Regions from separate parts of the Homo sapiens genome. Here region 2 is linked to region 1. A link means that fine-mapping ties the variant in region 1 to the expression of a gene that starts in the linked region. Tissue or cell type: skeletal muscle. Region 1 holds a variant in brackets; the other region holds the start of a gene. All regions are shown on one strand. Distances are between the middles of the regions.

Region 1 (2,602 bases):
TTCACAGACGTGCTCAGTGTACACACTCACATGCATTCACATACACAATGTATGCACACACACATATACACCCTCACACGGTCACACGTGCACACACACGTGCTCATAGGGACACACCCGCATACATTCACAGATGTGCTCACAGTGTACACACTCACACGCATGCACACAATGTATGTACACACACATATACACCCTCACACAGTCACACATGTGCACACATTAACACACCCTCGCACTCGCATGCATCAACTCAGCTCTCACCATGAACCCACTGCAGCTGGCAGCACAAAAGGTAAAATTAATCGGCAGCCGGGAGGGTGGGTTGCAGTCACGTGGCCGTCAGCCGCAGACATTGCATTTCAATCAAGGGTGCAGAGTTGTTGGGAGGTGCCCCGGCTGGAGGCCTGTCTTTTGCTCCACTGGGCCCAGCACAACAATGAGCCCAGCAAGAGCGTCAGTGGCGAGGGCGGTGCTCTCACTGGTCTCCTTGGCCTCCTGGCTGCAGCCACACTGGGCCAGACCTTCTTTGTTCAGCAGGCACTGGTGACGCCTTCTCGACGCGGACGTGAGGTGTGTTTACACACTCAGTGACCTGGGCTGGACATAGCTACGGCAGGTACCCGGTAGCAGGGATGAGGCCTCTTGGGCTGGCCGTGACACCCTCCCCTGCAGCTCCAGCTGCCTGCCTGGGAGGAGGGGCTGGCCTGGGTCTGTGACAGCCACCCAGCAGCACTGCAGGGCCATGGGGCTCAGAAAATGCAGAGGCATCCCCCGCCCTGCCCAGGCATAGGATTGGCTGAGGCATCCTGCCTTCAGCCGGGTCCACACGTGACACGTCCACACGTGACAGGCCCACAGACGACAGGACCACACAACAGGTTCACACGTGACAGGTCCACACGTGACTGGTGCATGCATGACAGGTCCACACGTGACAGTCCACACGTGACAGGTCCACATGTGACAGGCCTACAGATGACAGGACCACACGACAGGTCCACACGTGACTGGTGCATGTATGACAGGTCCACACGTGACAGTCCACACGTGACAGATCCACACGTGACAGGCCCACAGACGACAGGACCACACGACAGGTTCACACGTGACAGGTCTACACGTGACTGGTGCATGTATGACAGGTCCACACGTGACAGTCCACACGTGACAGGTCCTCAC[A/G]TGACTGGTCCACACATGACAGGTCCTCACGTGACAGGTCCACACGTGACAGGCCCACAGACGACAGGACCACACGACAGGTCCACACGTGACTGGTGCATGTATGACAGGTCCACACGTGACAGTCCACACGTGACAGATCCACACGTGACAGGCCCACAGACGACAGGACCACACGACAGGTTCACACGTGACAGGTCCACACGTGACTGGTGCATGTATGACAGGTCCACACGTGAGAGTCCATACGTGACAGATCCACACGTGACAGGTCCTCACGTGACAGGTCCACACGTGACAGGCCCACAGATGACAGGACCACACGACAGGTCCACACGTGACTGGTGCATGTATGACAGGTCCACACGTGACAGATCCACACGTGACAGGCCCACAGACGACAGGACCACACGACAGGTTCACACGTGACAGGTCTACACGTGACTGGTGCATGTATGAGAGGTCCACACGTGACAGTCCACACGTGACAGGTCCACACGTGACAGTCCACACATGACAGGTCCTCACGTGACAGGCCCACAGACGACAGGACCACACGACAGATCCTCACGTGACAGGTCCACACGTGACAGGTCCTCACGTGACAGGTCCACACGTGACAGGTCCACACGTGACAGGTCCTCGTGACAGGTTCACATGTGACAGGTCTTCACGTGACAAGTTCACACATGACAGGTCCACACTCAACTGGTGCATGTATGACAGGTCCACACGTGACAGGTCCTCACGTGACTGGTGCATGCATGAGTCGTTCATGACATGGCTCATCCATGACATGACTGGGCCGTGTCAGTCCCAGCTCCCTACGGAATTTCGCTGACTGTGCTGGCTTCCAAGGCCGTGGCGCCTGCTCCCTGCGACACGGCTGCTGTGAGGACTCCTGCACACATACTACTCAGGAAAGGCAGCAACAGGGTGTTGTGAGCACACAGTGTCTGTCTTGGGAAGAAAAACGTAGGTTTTCTGGGAGGGAAATAGGTGGGTGTAGTTGTTTCCCGCATGGGCCGTGACCAAGTGCCACACGTGGGTGTGGAAATGGTGCTGCCGTTCTCCACAGCAGCAGCTCTCATACCCGCTGGCGTCCTGCAACTCGATTCAGTCCCGTCACCACCCGTGTGAAAGATCTCAGCGTGTCACACCCTCTCTAAATAGAAGCTGGAGGCCACGAAGGAGGGGTCCGCACATGTGGGGAGCGCCCGTGAGAAGAACCATGTGAGAGGCCGGGTGCGGCGGCTCAAACCATGTGAAGGCCGGGTGTGGCGGCTCACGTCTGTTATCCCAGCACTTCGGGAGGCTTAGGCAAGTGGATTGCTTGAGCCCAGGAGTTTGAGACCAGCCTGGGTTGGTCCAGGTCGAGACCCCGTCCCTATAAAAAAATTTAAAAATTAGCTGGGCGTGG
Region 2 (2,602 bases), 950 kb before region 1:
CTCAGCCTCCCAAGTAGCTGGGACTATAGGTGCGTACCACCACACCCGGCTAATTTTGTGTGTGTGTGTGTGTGAGTGTGTGTGTGTGTGTATTTTTAGTAAAGACAGGGTTTCACCATGTTGGCCAGGCTGGTCTCCAACTCCTGGCCTCAAGTGATCCACCCACCTTGGACTCCTAAAGTGCTGGGTTTACAGGCGTCAGCCACTACACCCTGCTTTTTTTTTTTTTTTTTAAGAGACGTGTTGCCAGGCTGGAGTGCGGTGGTGCGATCTCGGCTCGCTGCAACCTCCGCCTCCCAGGTCCAAGTGATTCTCCTGCCTCAGCCTCCCGAGTAGCTGGAACTACAGGCACACGCCACCACACCCAGCTAATTTTTGTATGTTTAATAGATATGGATTTTCACCATGTTGGCCAGGATGGTCTGGATCTCCTGACCTCATGATCCGCCTGCCTCGGCCTCCCAAAGTGATGGGATTACAGGCGTGAGCCACCGCGCCCAGACTCCTGGCCTAGTTTGGTAGTTTCTTTCATAGTCGGTTTTCAGAAGACCCTTCCTGGGTCAGAAAACCCATCTACTTAAATTTAATTCGTAATGTACTGCTCTCTTTTTAATCCCTCCACTCCAAGAAGGCTACCTCATCACAAAGCCCTGAAGGCAGTGGAGGAAGGTTCAGCATTACTTAGCATTTGGGACCTTCACAGCCAGCTGCAGGGACTTGGTGGGGCTCCCAGAGCTTTCCTCCCCCCACCAGCTGAAACCCACCCTGCCACACCTGCCCAGAAATTGAGTTACTGACAATTCCTGTACCACAAAGGGAGAGCCCTTTACAAGAGAAAGACAGACATGGAGCTGATGAGGCCACGAGCTCCGCCTTCCTCTTCTCGGTCTGGGCCTGACTCCTGCCAGGCTTTCCAAGGGAACAGTGGTTCCTGTATCCCAAGGTTGTGCCCTGGGCACTCCAAGGGCACTGGACCTGTCCGGGCCTCCTTGGTGTAGAGGGATCTCTAGCCACTCTGGTGTGCCCCAGGCTCTCCATCCGGGAGACCAAAGGTCTTAGGGTAATTCCTGCCTCCGGCTCTATTCCATGGGGACCCTGGTGCTCTGCAAAGCCTCGTGAGCTGAAACCCTAGGTCCCAGGGATCCAACAGACCGAGTCTGCCATTCCAGGATGAGAGTCCCCTTGACGCATGTTCACTCTTCTGGGGACCGTGCGCCGCCGACCCCGGGCCCTGGGCGTTCTATGACCACCCCTGTGAGCACAGGGCTCTGGACAGCCCAGGTCTCAGTCCCGAGTGCTGCCAGGCCCCGGGGCCGGGAGCATCCTGAGTTTGCCCCACGGAGACCCCCACAAGAGCACCGAGCTCTCAATTCCAGAAACCCAGCGCTCCAGGCCTCCCATTCCCAGGGTCTCCGTGTACCGAGGCCTCCCTGCCCCGAGGTCTCCGGGCCCCTGCCGAGGACCCCAGCCCCGCTCCCGCCCCTGCTCACCATGACGCCAGCGGACAGGCCCAGCGGCGACTCCGGGACCAGGGCGCCCGCCCCCGGAAGCCACGCCGTTTCCCGGCAACCGCTGGGCGATGCCGCGATAAGTCACAAGATCCTCGCGAGACTCCGCCGGGCAGCGGCCCTGCCAAAGGCGGGAGTGCGTCCCTAGAGACGGGCGTCCGGAAGGAACCCGGTTGTGAACGTTGGGAAAATGTCGCCGGCAGCCCAGAAGCCTTTCGCTGCAGGGCATGTTTTGCTTATTGCTGGAACCTAAGCTCCACGAGGGGGGAACCCTTCACTTCTATCCTTCAGCGCCTAGAACAGCACACAGCACGTGCTCAGTAAAGACGTGCTGATGAAGGACCATTGAAGGAATGATCAATCAGCCACCCAAGCCTCTGAAACTTTCCCCAAATGAGATTCAAATCTGGGCAAACACTCTATCCCCTGGGCCTCACTCACCCCACCCGCCCACCTTTGAAGGGCCCTCCCAGCTGCTGCGCTGGTGGGTTTACACACACCTCAAAAACGCAGAAATCGGAAAGAAAAATACGTTCCAGTTTAGTTCCAAATGTTTGAAATCAGTAAGTATTCCTTTCACAAAAATAAACTGCTCTTCCTGAAGAGGCCTCCTCCCCACTCCTCACGGATGAAAAGAAACCAGAGGCTTCCCGACAGGCCCTGCAGAAAACAAACAGCTGCCACTTTCCTTTTCTAACTAATCTCTTGTTCTGAAAACTGCTAGCCATTTTACAATTTCTAAAATGAATCTGCCATCCGTGAAACCACCCTGTTACCTACATACAACCATCTATGTCACCCAGAAAGCTGAGTTTGTCATAAACAGGTGCTTTTTTTTTTTTTTTTTTTTGGAGACAGGGTCTCCTTCTGTCGCCTAGGCTGTGATCACAACTCACTGCAGCCTCGACCTCCTGGGCTCAAGCAATCCTCCCACCTCAGCCTCCTGAGAAGCCAGGACTACAGGTGTGAGACACCATACCCAGCTTTTTTTTTTAAGTTTTTAATAGAGACGGGGTCTTGCTTTATTGCCCAGAGTGGTCTCAAACTCCTGGCCTCAAGTGATCCTCCTGCCTCGGCCTCCCAAAGTGCTGGGA

The links. PIP is the estimated chance that this variant, and not a neighbour inherited with it, causes the effect.
Region 2: DRC4 starts here. The variant in region 1 is fine-mapped to the expression of DRC4 in skeletal muscle (GTEx, PIP 0.98).

What each region holds. Positions count from the first base shown.
Region 1 is chr16:89,073,327-89,075,928 of GRCh38, reverse strand. LOC105371412 (a long non-coding RNA gene) reads right to left here. Exons shown (of 3, transcript XR_933889.3): 3 at 1-2,569. Among named protein-coding and RNA genes, the nearest start is that of ACSF3, 19 kb to the left of the region's middle. The variant A/G (reference allele first, on the strand shown) is at 1,183.
Region 2 is chr16:90,021,613-90,024,214 of GRCh38, reverse strand. DRC4 (dynein regulatory complex subunit 4) reads right to left here and starts at 1,535. Exons shown (of 11, transcript NM_001481.3): 1 at 1,491-1,535. The coding sequence starts at 1,493.